Regions from separate parts of the Homo sapiens genome. Here region 2 is linked to region 1. The links come from fine-mapping of genetic effects on gene expression. Tissue or cell type: whole blood. Region 1 holds a variant in brackets; the other region holds the start of a gene. All regions are shown on one strand. Distances are from middle to middle.

Region 1 (8,107 bases):
CCATGCCCCTACCCCATGTTCCCTTCCCACTGTGCAGCTGATCGCGTTCTCCACCTCCAGCCTATAATGCTTCGTACAAACCTTTTTTAGTCCTTCTCACATCTGTATGAGTCAGGTCTCAGAAACCTCATACTGAAGAGTGTTTAAAACAGAGACTCTTTACAAAGAAGCAGAGTATAAGGAGACTACAAAAGTTAGTACATACCGCTGGGCAAATTAAGAGGAGCTCTATTACTATCCCTAGGCTGGAAAGGTAAGAGGAAGAAGTAGTTCTCAGAGCTTGGAGGGAGAAGAAGAGGGATGCTTCACAGGAACTGCAACCTTGAGTAGAGGAATGTAGCCAGTCTGGAGCAAACCCTCAGGAAAGGAGCCACTGGAAAAGCCCTGAGTTTGGCTCTTCCTCCCTCCTTCCAATTATCTGCTGGTGCTGGAGGGAACTCCAGCTGGAATCCAGGGTCAAGGGAGCCCTTTCCTGTGGTCCATACAGGGCAGCCTCCAAGGGAAGAAAGTGGACCTTTCCCTTGGAGGGACAAACCAAAGACTGGCCACAACAACGTACTGTCGTGATTGATTCGCAGGCATGCCAAGTGTCTGCTGCCTAAGAGATTCCCTTTAATTTTACAAAACACTAGAGCTCAAGGCTGCACCCTCTGTACTTCAGAATATCCAGAGCCACCCACCCACGCAGTCCTCTCCCTTCTCCTGAGGCGGTCCTTGCTACATCCTTCCTGGTTTCTACATCTTTCCTACTCTCTCATTAGCCCACTTCCTGGACATGCTGGACAACACCCTTCTTCCGTCCTATTTCTCAACTCAGCATAAATTCAAGGGTTATTGTATGTATCAGATTTCTAACTGAAGGATAGTGGGTAAAGGGGGATAAAAGGCAACACAGAGTGAGGAACAACTTCAAAACCCTTATTAGATACCTCTTTCATAAATATTCACAAACCATTCTCCACTATGAAGACTTTCTCAGCTATGTACCACCATCTTCTAGAAACCCAGGCTCCTTCCACAGACTTCTTTTTTCCCTCTATTGACAGCCTTCTAAAACCCTAAATTCTGTTCTACTCTTTTTTTGTCTAAACTTTATTATTTTAATATTTATATTTTAGCATAAAATTTTATATTTCAATATAAAATATTACATTAATATTAATATTAAAATAGTTTACTATTTTAATGCAATTGTCTTTAAAATCAAATTGGCAAGTTTTTTTAATGTTCTTTTTTAAAAACTTTTTCATTTCAATAGTTTTTTGGGGGAAAAGGGGTGTTTGGTTACACAAATAAGTTCTTTAGTGGTGATTTCTGAGATTTTGGTGCACCCATCACCCAAGCAGTGTACACTGTACCCTATGTGTAGTCTGTTATACCTCGCCACCCCCCCATCCCTTGGTGACAATGGCTTTATAGTACAGTTTGAAGTTCAGTAATGTGATGCCTCCAGATTTGTAATAAAATTAATATTAATAAATAGTAATATTAAAATTAATTATGCTAATTAATATTATTGTGATATTTTATATTTTAATATAAAATATTCAATTATATTAATATTAAAATATTCTAATATTTTAATGCTATGCTTTTAAAAATCAAATTACAAGTTGTATAAAATTTTAATAGAACCAGGGCCAAGATTAGGGGGAGGAAAGTGAGGAAAGGGTATATACACATGCAGGATCAGATCCTCTCTTTATTTTAAATTTTCATCCTTTGTTCATCAGGGATTTTGTTTTCATTAATTTTGATTTTTAAAAGACTACTTTATAGTGCAGTTTATCTTAACCACGAAGTTTTTTGACATCCCCCTCGACCCCTTTTTTTTTTTTTGTATCCCAGGCAAGTGCCTCACTCAATATCACCTTAGTTATGGCCCTGCCAGTTGAGGGGGCTCAGGGAAAAAGACTTATCTTTCTACATTAAACATGTCAGTTTAGAAGCTCTTCCAAACCAAAAGGTAAGTTCTTTTCCCAAGCAGAATTTTGTCTTCAAACTCCTGCCAATTTTGAGAAGAATTTTTTTCTTGTGACCCCTCCCTCATTAGGCTATGAGATCCTTCAGAATAGAAAATGATGCTGTATCCGCTTCCATAGCCCCAGCACCCAGACTTGGTAGATGAATTATAAATATTTACTGCATACAAGGATCCAGTGCAGAGCTTTGTAAATTCCATTTGTTATTTGTTGAATATATTCACAGGTTTTCTTTTTATGTTAAAATCAAACATCTTAGAAAACCAGCTGGCAAGTACCTGAAGACATCATTTAATCTAATCTTTTCATTTTGTACATTGGGAAGCTGAGGCCAACCTCCATGGTTATACTTGCAGGCAAGTTGCTTAGAGTTTATCCAAAAAAATGATATTTCTGATTGTCAGGGTACTAAATAATTTTGGTAGCATCCCAGTAAGCAGAACAGAGTAAAATTCTCCCAGGGGTTCATGAAGCCCCTGCAATAACACAATGCTACTAATTAATTAATTAATACAATGCTGTTATTTCTGCCAACAGAAATCTCAGAATATGAAAAACACACAAGAGAGGCTAAATGGGAAAATTACTGACACCCAAGCCAATGACCTGAGTCAGAACAACTTTTATCAGAATGAAGCGCAGAAATATTAATATCAAGAAGCTGAACTTTTAAATCAAAGCCAGAAAATGTATTTGCCCAAGGTAAAGGCATGAGCAGAAGGTTTACAGAGAGAAGGACAATGATGATAAGGAAAGCTTGCTTCTTTACAATGAATGCATTGTGACAAACTCGTGAGGCACCAAGCAAGCTGACAAGGGTCCCTTCTTCCTTGCACCTAGGACAGTTTGGCTAAAGGACATCTAGGGTGACACGCCTCAGACAGTCCGCATTAATTTCACATCCTGGAATAGCCCGAAGAACCTGTCCAACCTGACTGTCAGCCTTTTCAAAATCACTTTTGGAATTCTTTGTTCAATCCTGCTTGGTTTACACTGGAACGTCTCTTCTGGGACTTCTCTGGTGACTTGATCTTTGTCCACAATGACATAGCCCAGGAGACCCACCAATACCCAGATTTGCCCAGTGGGTGACACTAATATTAGATCCAATTAGAAGTGTCAATTCAAAACAGATGAAGGACACATTTACACACAAGTCAGGGCTGCCACAAATTCATTTCTTCCTCACAATATCCTCTAGCAGAAAAAAGGGCAAACTGACCTTGAAGAAACCTCCTTTTTTTTATCGGTTACCATGGCAGCATGAACCGTCTCTCCCCAGGGCACCTGCCCATGGGTTTGCACCTGCCAGCTGGTAGCAAGAGTGCACCAGCAGCCTTGGTTCCCAGTGGCTGTGCTCACATCATCAACAAAGGTACCAGCAGTGCCAATTGGCTTCACGATATGGATACCTGCCCGCTAAGCATTGGCCTGGAGCTCGGGGACTTTCACAAAGGCCAGCCAACAGCTGGCAGGCAGGAACCTCCAGGTCATTGTCATCCTGGGCTGAATTGGAACATGCACTTGGGAGACAAAGGCTCTGTCTGTAACCACAGCATCCCTTCCTCCCTGGGTGTTTTATTTTCAGCTCTGGGTCCCCTGCTATGGGAAGGCCATGTGGCTGAAGGTGTCTTTCTTGTTTTTTTTTCCCCCCCCTCCTTTAGCATTGTCCTGCCTTGTGCATGGTGCAGAAAAGCTTTCTCTGTCCCATGTCTAGTTTTATTGCAAATCAGAGAGCTCACCATAAGTCATCCTGGGCCAGTGGGTTCAGAGGTGGAGCTGGTAACCAGAGGCCATGTCAAACTTCCTCCTCTGGCTCCATACCAAGGCCTCGGAGGATTTTTTGTCACATGAGGTTACTGTAGTTTCACATCCTCTAAAGCAAAGCTCTGTCGAAACTCTCTATTCTCACATGGCTTCAGCTCAAACAACCACCCTACTCAGCTGCCTTCCTAACCCTTTCAAGCCGTGAATCAGGAGACCTGGGTTCCAGTTTCAGCTCAGTCTGCGTGCCCCAGAGCAATGACGGGGCCTCAACTTCTTTATCATGAAAATTAAGAGGCCAAAGTACCTTTCACTCAGGTTCCTTTCAACTCTCTCTCCCCTATCT[T/TA]AAAAAAAAAAAAAAAACAACAGCTTATTTTTCCTGTTGCTTTTAGAAGAAACTCTTAACCTGAGACTCTCTAAAAATGAATAGAGATTATTGTGGTTTAAAAAATAAATGGCTACACACAGCAACCTGACTGTATCTCAAAAATATTATGGTAAATGAAAGAAGCTTCACATACAAAAGAGCTCATACTGTATGGTATTATTAACATGGAATTCAAAAATAGGCAAAACTAATCTACAGTTTTAAAAATTAGAATAGTGGTTGCCTCTGGCTGTGAGGTAGGAGCAGGGATTACCTGGGAAGGGGCAAGAAAGAATTTTCTGAGATGAAGGTTATATTTTATATCCGGTTAGGACTGGGTCACACAAGTAAGCCTTCATCAAAACTCACAGACTGCTACTCTTGAGAGGATCAATAGAGGTAATAAAGCAATTATAGCAAAATATTAATTGCAGGATCCAAGTTGTGAGTAAATGGGTATACCCTGTTTAATTCCTTCAACTTTCCTGTAATTTGGGAATCTTCATACTAAAATGTTAGAAAAAAACACGTTCTAATACATTTCAAAATTCCTGTCTCACTCATTCTCTCCTTTCTTCCATCCCCTCCCTCTTTCTTGACATGTGACCTTCTTTTCCCATTAAATGAGTCAATGGAAATGGGAATATTTATTGATTTGAGCAGTTAAGTCACCAGTGCTCTGTGATGACTAACTACTTTATCATTCATTGCCCATGGCTTTCAAGGGAAGAGGACAAGCTCTGTGCATCTTTCTCAAAGAAAGCGTTCCTACCTGTAAAAGTCTGTTAGAAAGGACTGCAGATTTAATAAGCATCTTTCAAGAGCTCTGTCCCCATTCCAACTCACCCCAACCCTCCAGCCCCAACACATTTGTTAAAAATTCACATTCAGAGATGCAGGACCCTCAACCTTGGACTTCCCAGACTCCAGAACTGTAGGACATAAACCTCTTGTCTTTACTTTAAAAAATAATAATAACATTCAGTCCCTTTTTTGAAGGTTTTTATCAGGATATCTCAAACTTAACACTGAAAGGAGGTAGCAAAATTTCTGTTTCCTCCATGTCTTTGTACTTGTAGAAATGGAGGCACAAAGGTAAGACACAGGTGTGACCAGGCCCTTCGAGTGGTTCAGCTGACTGAATATACACCTAGAGACCCTAAAACAAGCCACAGGGGTGAGAAATCAGAGAATTAGGAATGCGCAATTTAAAAGCACTGCGGTTTCCAATGTGAATTGACTGGAACTGAGGTTAAAGAAGAATTTCAGCATTTTTTGGTCACCAGTTTCTCAATGGACCATTTCCTGTCCTCTCACTGTCAAGTTTAGAGAATAAAACAAACCTCAAGGATGTATCTCTGCTCCACACCCTGTCTCAAGGCAAAGTTAGTGGTCACCAACAGCAAGATAGCACACACTGCATCTACAAATGTATGTGACATATCTTCACATTTTGTGTGTGTGTGTGTGTGTGTGTGACCACAACTTCAAAGAAACGAACAAAAGAAGCAACCAATAATCATAATGAAGAGGTTAAATTTTACCAGAGCCAATTGGGCAGAGAAAAAAAATCCAAAAACACAATGAAAACAAAGAATATTAGACCTGTTAAAAAATAATAATAAAAACCTTAGAGTTCATTTTAGTCAAACTTTTCATTTTGCAGAAAAAGAAACTGGATCTCAAATTTCCAATTTAATGAAAGTTATGTCTGAGAATATAAATCTGAGACCTGATCTCACCACCAGAAAATAGGGTTGGAATTGACCTTATAAATAATATATCTAAGCCCCTCAGTTCACTGGTGAGGAAACTGAGGTTCAAAGAAATTTCAGGGACTACTTCGAGTCCACACTGTTACTTAGTAGGACTAACTCCCATGTGTTTATGCTTCTGAGGAAGACAGCTTCGGTACCTTCCTTCCCTGTCCAAATCCTATCGGCAGCCTTTATCACTCTTTCGTTCTTTGAAATGAGCAGTTGATGTTTTTCTCATGTTCTTATACAAATAACCACCTTAATTCAGCTTAGAGACCCACATCTCCTTTCCAACCAGATTAGTATCCCTTACAGAAATTCAGGCACTGAGTCTCCCTCTGTCGCTCAGGCTGGAGTGCACAACCTCAGCTTACTGCAACCTCTGCCTCCTGGGTTCCAGTGATTCTCCTGCCTCAGCCTCCTGAGTAGCTGGGATTACAGGCATGCACCACTACGCCCAGCTAATTTTTGTATTTTTAGTAAAGACAGGGTTTCACCATGTTGGCCAGGCTGGTCTAGAACTCCTTACCTCAAGTGATCTGCCTGCCTCAGCCTCCCAAAGAGCTGGGATTACAGGCATGAGCCACTGCATCTGGCTACATCCAGGCAATTTTAAATACCTGTCTGTGTTTTATAACCACTCCAAGCTGGTCAGCCTCAAGGAAATCAACTAGGAGAGTTCAGAGTTTTTCCATGTTAAATTCTGACTCTATTTACCAAAGCAAACAAATTAAGGTACTGAAAGACTTTAGTAAACACAAATATTTTTACTTGTGGTTACAGAGGCTTTGCAAGAGCTCTTGTTCTTAGCAGTGATTATGTTGAGCCATTCATTTCATTCACGTAATAGTCTGACAAAATGTGAATGCCTACCATGTGTCCAGTACTTTCTAGGTGATGGAGACGCAGCAGGGAACAAAGTTTCTGCACTCTTGGATCTCATATCTACTGCAAGAAACAGACAAGCAATAAACAAGTATAGCCATAATATGTCAGATATTGATATGTGCCATGGGGAAAAAGAAAGTGAGAAAGTAGGTGAGTGGGTACCAGACTGCAGCAGTAAGGAAGGGTGGTTGCTAATGTCATATATAAGATGGACTCACTGATAAACAGACTTGAAAGAAATGAGGAAGCAAGCGTTGTGTACATCTGGAGGAAGCCGTTTCCAAGCAGAGGGGGAACAAAAGTAAAGGCCTGAAGTAGGAGTGGCATATTCTTGGAACAGCGAGAAGGCCAGGGTGACCAGAGCAGAGTGAGCGAGGAGACAGTGGAAGGAGATGTTGTCTTGAGGCCCAGTTGTGTGGGGCTTTGTAGGACATTGCCGGGGCTTCAGCTTTTTCTCAAAGTGAGGTGGAAAGGCATTAAAAACTGTGGAACCCAGGAGTGACATGATCTGATTTCCATTTAAAAGAATCAATTTGCCTGTGTATTGAGAAACAACTGTAGCTATCTATTATTGGCTACTACAAGACTCCAGGGATAATGGTGGCTTGGACCAGTGGTGGTAGCAGTGGAGGTGGTGAGAAGTAGTAAGATTCTTGGAGGTAGAGCTGACAGGATTTATTGATGGATTGGAAGTATGAGGAAAAGAGAACCAAGAATGACTTTCAAGGTTTTAGGTTGGAGCAATGATATGGTTTGGATCCCACCCACATCTCTCGTTGAATTGTAATCCCCAGTGTTGGAAGTAGGGCTGGGTGTGAGGTGATTGGATCATGGGAGCAGAGTTCTCATGAATGGTTTAGTACCATCCCCCCTTTGGTACTGTATAGTGGTAGAGTTATCATGACATCTGGTTGTTTAAAAGTGTGGAGCACCGGCCGGGCGCGGTGGCTTACGCTTGTAATCCCAGCACTTTGGGAGGCCGAGGCGGGCAGATCACCTGAAGCTGGGAATTCGAGACTAGCCTGACCAACATGGAGAAACCCCATCTCTACTAAAAATACAAAATTAGCCAGGCATGGTGATGGGTGCCTGTAATCTCACCTACTTGGGAGGCTGAAGTAGGAGAATTGCTTGAACCTGGGAGGCGGAGGTTGAGGTGAGTCGAGATGGCGCCATTGCACTCCAGCCTGGGCAACAAGAGCGAAACTGTCTCAAAAAAAAAAAAGTGTGTAGCACTTCCCACCCTCTCTCCTTCTTGCTCTGGTTCCAGCCATGGAAGATGTGCCGGCTTCCCCTTGCCTTCCACCATGATAGGACGTTTCCTGAGGCCTCCCCAGAAGCAGCAGTCA
Region 2 (8,107 bases), 150 kb after region 1:
AAGAACATGCAGAAACCAAATTCTAGCCCCAGCACTCCTGCAAGTATTCCATAATAAATATTTGTAAGCTTGAAAGAACACCAGCTTTTACCCTATTCTCAAGGTTATATTATTCTTTTATGTTTATCTGAGGTATAGATCTCACAAACAGCCATGAATATGTGAATACATTCACATACTGATGGATCTGGAATTCTACCAGTCAGCCTGATAAATACCCACTAATAAAAATATCTGTAGATTGGAATATTTTGTTTATTCATTTTTGTAGAAATGAAAAACAACAAACAATATCCTCAGAGAAGAAAAATTCCTGCATATGCACAGTAGGTGCTTACTAAATATATGATGAATGATGTACAGGCTGAAATATTTCTCCCAATGTATATTATGTCTGCTCATTCTAATATTTGTGATATTTATGTACAGTGAGGAAATGCCCAGTGTCAAAGTGGATCCTCAACGTGAATATGCTGCAGGAACTGAAGTGTGATGTAGGCAGTTTCCAGAAGCACTATGTGGAGGCAGTGATCTGTAATGCACTGGTATTAAGGTTATTGAAATGGTCATGAAATTGCCATGAAATTGCATGCGTGAAATCATTGCAAGGTTTACGTCCCAGTGAGGATGGAAATGAAGAGCTTGGAAACAGGAATTGGAGCTTTCAGTCTAGAAACAACCTTGGAAGAAATACAAGTCTCCTGAATGTTATTAAATAAATCATATTAAGAGAATTCAGAGCCTACAGTACTTGATATTTGACATCCACCTCTCTGCAGTAACATAGCAGGACTGAAGAGCACCAAAACCAGCTAGAGTCTTAATCACGCATTAGACTCAGAAACTTCTATTAACATATGGCAGAGGGAGAACACCCTTTTCAGTTAAGCATGTCCTTTGATTCTCTCTTTAAGAAATCAGTGTGTCCATATGCAGATGCATAATGACAACCTGAATATTTACGTAAACAAAGAAAAAAATGACTCAAAGCAACAAAAACTGTGGGAAAATACCAACACTTAGGTTTCTCCATGGTAATACGTGGTGGATGGAGGAAGTGAGAGAATTGTAGCTAGTTCATAGTGCTGCGCTGGGTAGCCCTCTCCCTTTGATCCCCAGTTTCAACCACTGTACAAACAGTCAAAAATCAGTTTTGCTGGAATCTCCTTTTTACTCTGCTACTCTGGCTAAAGTCTTCCACTTACTTTTCTCACTTACAGGTACCTGAATATGTGCGTGCAAATGTAAAAGTCTTTAGATCAAAATAGGAACAAGGAAAGTTTATCCGTTTCAGTTTAGGATTTGGTGGGTGTGGCAACCCAGGAAGACCTGAGAAATAACCACTGTTTGGTTTGAATGATACATTTGACTGCCATTAAAATAGCATATAATTATAGCCTAAATGTAGACTTAATTTTTAACAGATTTATCTGAACTTTCAAAATTTGTACCGTTGGGTGTAACGATCTAAAACTATCTTATGGGAGATGTTACAGCAGTTTTCAAATCATTGAGCTAATATGAAATCTGGACTTTTTAAAACCCCTCTGATCTAACCTGGTTACGCAGTTAACATTGTATCTGGGAAAGGGGCTTTCATTTTACCTAGTCTCCAGAAGTCAATGGAATTATTCTGTAAATAGTTCAGGCTTTTGTCTAAATATGTGAAGACTGACAAGACTATCTCCGTGAGAATCCGCACCCCCCCACCCCAACCTCCCCCCTCCTTAATCATGTTTCACAAAGTAAATCTATAGACGTTCCTCCTGGGTTTTGGGAGATTCCCCATCCTAAACAAACCAGCTGGAGGAAAGGAAAGGAAGGAAGAAATAAACGCAACACAGAAGTTCTCCTCAGTTGACAAAAGGTCAAAAATCATTAACGTGTAAATGTTGCTTTTTCCATCCCAAAGCACCTTCTCACGTAGAGTCCAGGGACTAGGAGGACTCACAACGCAGCGATGGGCAGCCAGGCCCTGCAGGAGTGGGGACAGAGGGAACCCGGCCGGTGGCCCGACCCTGCAGGGAAGAAGGACGTGCGGCGAGAAGCATCGGATTCGGGGAGGGCCGGGACCTGGCCGAGGGTGACATTACCGAGCACTTCCTGGCACAGCGCTGGTCCCCTCCCCAAACGCGCTATATGTGGTTCTGTACGGGACTGCCTTTCCCAAAGACAGCCAAGGAAAAACTAAAGATCGACGGGGACACCCGCCTCCCTTCCTCGCCCCAACGGTTTCTCAGAGGCTGTGGGGACTTGGTGAGGGTAGGGGGTAGTTGTCCCAAATCAGCAGCTTCAGGATGTAAGGTATTACAGAAAACTTTGAAGTTTTGTTATCTGTAGCACAGGGACAGGGGTGGGACAATAGAGAAGGAATGTTTTCTTTTCAAAAGAAAACACAAACAAAACTTTATTTTTCTGGTCCGCGGCAGCCTGTCTGCTGAACGTTGACTTGCTTTCGCTTTGCAGCAGGCGACGGTCCCGGGCGCCACCTGCGCGTCGGTGGGAGGCTGGTCCACGCCCGGGTCCCCCGACGCCCACTGCAAAGGGCAGTGGGAATGACAGACTGTAAACCCTCTCGCCTGCGTCCCCTTCAAGCACCAGAAACCCAAGTTGGAACTAATTCTTTCTTTCGGAAGGTGCAACTCCCCTCCCGCGAGCTCCGCGGTGCCGGGCCGAGATTGCCGAGAGGAAGCGGCGCAGCGCTGCCGCCAAGGCTCCTCCTGTCGCCGGTGCGGCCGGGACTACCTGGCGGCGCGGCGCGTGCAGCGCGCAGAGTCCCGGGAGCCCACGCCTCCGCCTCCGCCCCCGCCCCCTCCGCCTCCCAGTCCACCTCGCCCGCCCGCCCTCTCGCCCGGCGGAGAGCACAGCCCACTCCCTCCCACCTGCGGCCGCCGGGCCGCCCTCCACCCACACCTCTGCCGCAGGCCGGACCCAGTGCGCCCGCCCGTCGGTCAGTCCAGGCCAGGCGCCCGGCGGGCCGCGCTCACGCAGTTGGCGCAGGAGGCCTTACGCTGGCGGCGCAGTGCCCGCCCCCTGCGCTCTCCCCGCCCCCTCCCTCCCTCGCAGGGGCCGAGCGAATGTAGCCCGCGAGAGAAAATGGCGGCGGCGGCGGGGAATCGCGCCTCGTCGTCGGGATTCCCGGGCGCCAGGGCTACGAGCCCTGAGGCAGGCGGCGGCGGAGGAGCCCTCAAGGCGAGCAGCGCGCCCGCGGCTGCCGCGGGACTGCTGCGGGAGGCGGGCAGCGGGGGCCGCGAGCGGGCGGACTGGCGGCGGCGGCAGCTGCGCAAAGTGCGGAGTGTGGAGCTGGACCAGCTGCCTGAGCAGCCGCTCTTCCTTGCCGCCTCACCGCCGGCCTCCTCGACTTCCCCGTCGCCGGAGCCCGCGGACGCAGCGGGGAGTGGGACCGGCTTCCAGCCTGTGGCGGTGCCGCCGCCCCACGGAGCCGCGAGCCGCGGCGGCGCCCACCTTACCGAGTCGGTGGCGGCGCCGGACAGCGGCGCCTCGAGTCCCGCAGCGGCCGAGCCCGGGGAGAAGCGGGCGCCCGCCGCCGAGCCGTCTCCTGCAGCGGCCCCCGCCGGGTGAGCAGCACGGCCGGGGTCGCGGCGGGGACTTGGAGAGCGGGCAGAGGGCAATGAATGAACCCCGGGCACCATGCACGGCGTCCCGGGGTTCAGCGCAGCGAGGCTACGCGCCGCTCGCCGGGACCTACGCCCCTGAGCACCCCCCGACCCCTTCGGAGTCGGGCGGCGCCCCGGACCCAGCCTGGGGGACCGGACGGGGACGTGCGGAAGAGTTTGTTATTGTTTGCAGACATGTGACAGGCGTGCGAGCCTCTCTGCGGGGAACCGTTGCGAAAAGGTGTAGGGGGCCACGGCTGGCTTTGTGGGACTCCTGGAATCGGGGCTCTCCGAGGAGCCCGGGGGCGGGGCACGGCCCTGCGGCGGCGCCCCCGGACGGGTGTCCCCGGGGCAAAGGCACTGGGGGGCGAGGCCCGAGCCTGAGGCGGGCGGTGGTCGGAAGAGGGGCGGGGTGGGTGAGAAGCCCGAGGTCGGGTGGGAGACTGAGAGGACCGAAGAGAAAGTAGCAGGTCCCAGCGGCCGTGACAGGCAGAGCCCCTCGGCCCGCCCGGGACTCGAGTCCCTAGGCAGATACCGCGGGCTGGGCCCGGACGCAGGCGGCGCGCCCCCAGCGCCGGCCGCAGGGCTCCAGGAGGACGGCTCGGTAACGCCTGTCAAAGCCGTGCGGCGGGAGGCTGCACACTCGCGGAGGCTTGCAGTCTTTTAGGAAGTGCGGTTTGTCTAATTGCAGCCCCCAAGGGGCTTTGAGTGTTCCTGGGAATGCGAACTGCACTGCTAAGTCACTTGAGTGACTTCTGTTTGGAGTTTGAATTTGGCCTTTGAAGTTTGCATTTGGCGGAGTGGTGTAAGAGCCAGGACCGGATGTGTCAGCCATTCAGTTTCAAAGCAGTGGTGACTGCTCCCCGCAGCCCCTCCGGCTTGGCCCGGGGACTGCGGCGCGGGTGCAGTGCTTCCTGCTCGGTGCCCTGGCGCGGGCCGCCCGCTGAATTCCAGGGGCCGCAGTGCGGTGGGCTTCGGCTCAGATGCGTCTTCTGGTGCATATGAAGTACAGTATGTGTAAGGTAATTTAGACCAGCGGTTTATTGGCCTCGCCCATTTTTGGCTACTGGAAATTTTTATGTTAAAGGAAATTCTTTTAAGTGTGACAGCTACATCCTTGTTTGTTTGTTTTTTAAAAACCTGATTAACGTATGCAAAGTACAAAGTCTTGATGGGTATTTTGAGTTGCTGGAAATGTTTTTGTGATAGTCCCTCGTGGCCCTGTAGAATTCCCTGACCTTTATTATGAGAAGAAAGCGTGTCATTTTGTGAGACGAATTTGACAGTAGGAGTCCTTGGTTTGGATTCATTATCTAAAGTGATCTGGCATTTTTTGTGCATTTGATTATTTGCTTAAAATCACGATCCATTTAGTATTTGGAAGTCCCCTTCCTCTCCCCAAGAACTAAAAAATATGCTTCGCACTGTACCATGGCACTACTGAGACCAAAGGAGATTTGTGACTGATACAGTTTTGTGTGCACTTGTACATGTAATTTATTCTTACAAGAGTTATGTACCTCTATAGTTTTCCCATTTCTGTGCAGATTGTATTAAAACTTAACTGGAATAATTCTTTGAAGGCAACTTCTACTTTAAATGAATTCCAGATAAAAATTTTTAACCCCAAATTTAAGAAATTGTATCTATTGAGACCTAACTTTTTGGATACAATAAATAATTTAGCAAACGTCAGCATTCTAGTACTCTTAATGAGCTGTGAATATAGTAGAAGAGCATCCACTGTAAAAATAATGTACTGAAATTGTTTAATGTTGTCTCTTGACACAAAATAAGAGGACTAAGGTGGAGGCAGATAGAATTTAGGGACTAAGTAATCCATGCTTAGTATTTGCGTTTTGTAACCGAGGTTTTTTCCCCTTTGCTTAAGGTGTAGATTATAATTGCACAGTATAAGAAAATAATGGGCTTGTAAGGATAATCTTTTTTAAAGAAATTATTTTTACGAGTCAGAATGCTGTTGGTTTATCCCAAATGTCATACGTAAAGATTTCATTTATAGTAAAATGTTGATTCCCTAACCTTATGAAATATAGTGAATTTTTTTTTCTTAACAATTGGGTTGAAATTCATTTGAATCTGTTCGTATAAAACTTTGTGGGGAAAGGGCTTGTATCTTATTTGAGTGTGTATATTTTGTATTGCATGTTGGTTATGCTACACTATTACTTACCATTTAAAGTTTTAGGAAAAAAAACCCTTAATTATAGCCAACTCAATAAAATATCAATTGAACTTTATGTTTTACTTTTTTTTGACAGTTAAGTTACATTCATACTTCCAAGAGGAAAATCTAAGATTTTGAAATATTTGAGAGTTCTGTGATCTTTTTTTTAATTTTAGAATTTCCTTCTGATCTTTGAATGTAGAAAATATACTTTGAATTAGAATTTATATAAATAAATAATACTCGTATTTAAATAGAAGATTTTAAGTTTGTCCCTCTTTTTCAGGGTGATAGCTGAAATCAGTGAAAGTGCCTGTAAGTGGCGCCCAAGGGTTTGGAATTTTTCCTTATATTACAGAATTTAGGGGCTTTTTCTTCCTATTTACTGTCTTTGAAGAAAAATTACAGTGTTACTCTCCATTGAACAGCCTATTGTGAGTTTGGTAGATATAATTACCCCATCCTATTTTTGTAACTTAAAAAACCAAACTATCAATTTGCTGGCCCCGTGAAAGAACAAGATATGCTGTACTTGTTAATGTTAGTTTTTGTTTAAAACTAAAGGTATTTCACAGGCTGCTTTTATATCCTCATATAGCCCTCAGATTTCACTTCCTTTTTAAAGCTATTAGGCTAAAAATATGATTTAGTGACCTTTTACTAAAGAGGAGGTATAAGAGCATTATTACCTAAAAATTACTCTTAAAATATTAAGTGGGTGACTTTATAAAAATAAAGGTAGTCACATAAGTTAGTCTTCCGTGAATTTGTAAGTTTTTAGTTAAGAATGGTGTCAGTTTCATTTTAAATCAGATAAGAAAATTAATGCATTCTTCAAAGATGAACCTTAATATAATTCTGGAAGAGAAATATAAGAGCTAGAATTGTTGCCAACTTTTATTTTCTTTTCATATCTGATTTTGGCAAGAGTGACTGGTTAACCAACATTCCTTAATATACGATTTCCAATGCACTAAAACTCCATTTTGTTAGATACGAAAAACAGGAAGTAGCCCTGTTCATTGATATTCATTTACAACTTCCATAGCACCTCGAGCATAATATGTTGCATATTTTAGAAATGGCCACTGACTTGTCAACTTGCAGATTTCAAAATGTGGGAAGAAAGGAGTGTTTTTTTGCTTTCAACAAGAGCAAAAAAAAAACCAGCTACAGCTTGCCTAGGCTGAGTCGGCTAATCAGTCCTTGACACTGGCTGTGTGCATCCCAAAGGAAGAAATGAGGGGGTGGCAAGGTAGTTAATGGGGAATGGATTACCATGAGGAAAAATATGGGGCATTCAGAAATGCTCTCAGGTAGAAAGCACCTCTTTTGCATTTTGTACTCCAGTCATCTTCTTGGGTTGAGGGCTGTCTGTTACACAGAAGGCGATGGGAAAATGTGTCATGGAAAAGTAGTAGTCTCTAGAGGCTGCTTAGGAACTGCGTGTATATTACACCTCTAATCTTGGAATTCTTTGCTTCTATCAAATATATCAAGTATAGACTTGGTTGTTTTCCTTAGTCCTTGCCTCTTTCTATATCCTAAGTTAAAAGCTAAAGCAACTTAAACATGTAAATGGTAGACTATTAATGTGAGGAAATGTGTAAGATTAGGAGTAACCCAAAGTTGTCTTTAAGAAATTATTTAAGAACATGTTTAATCATGAAAGAAATAATCAGGGCCGGAATTAGTAAATGGTTCATTGCAAAGCATGAGATTAGTCAGATACTCTTTTCAGTTTGCAAAAATATATTAGGATTTTATCTGTGGCTTAAAACATACTCATTGAGCATATAGATATGCCTAGATACCTTTTACATAATCAACTCTTTTGCCTTCTGTGTGTGTGTATGATATCTATTATATGTATTATATATATGTTTATATATAATCTCATTTGATCATCACTGCAGCCCCCTAAGATAGTGTAATTTCTGTTTTCTGTAGGTGCAAACTCATCTGAGATGGTAAAACCTCATGATTACACAACTAGAAGACAGCTAGGATTCAATCCCAAGTCAGACTGACTCCACAGTCCATTTCTTTCCACTACTCTGCTTCTTCCATTTTCTTTTTTCAAATTAATAATCAAATTAATTGATTATTTTTAAGGAGAAATTTGTTTTGCAGGCATTCTAATAGACCATGAGCTAGGTCTCTACCCTGTGCTAAGTTTGCCTGTTAATGTATATAATAGGTATGTTTCTGTAACCTGGCCTTGTATATGTAATACAAGTAAACTGTATTTGGATCACCCTATCATGTCAGCCAAAGAGGGTTAGTCATTAGTGTTGAATGT

What was found. PIP is the estimated chance that this variant, and not a neighbour inherited with it, causes the effect.
Region 2: MAP3K1 starts here. The variant in region 1 is fine-mapped to the expression of MAP3K1 in whole blood (INTERVAL, PIP above 0.99).

What each region holds. Positions count from the first base shown.
Region 1 is chr5:56,666,359-56,674,465 of GRCh38, forward strand. No RefSeq gene overlaps it. Among named protein-coding and RNA genes, the nearest start is that of C5orf67, 64 kb to the left of the region's middle. RefSeq lists a silencer at 3,844-4,138 and an enhancer at 4,088-4,137. The variant T/TA (reference allele first, on the strand shown) is at 4,093.
Region 2 is chr5:56,812,478-56,820,584 of GRCh38, forward strand. MAP3K1 (mitogen-activated protein kinase kinase kinase 1) reads left to right here and starts at 3,072. Exons shown (of 20, transcript NM_005921.2): 1 at 3,072-3,578. The coding sequence starts at 3,097. RefSeq lists enhancers at 2,300-2,429, 3,881-4,704 and silencers at 2,790-3,559, 3,630-3,749, 3,930-4,169, 7,965-8,107.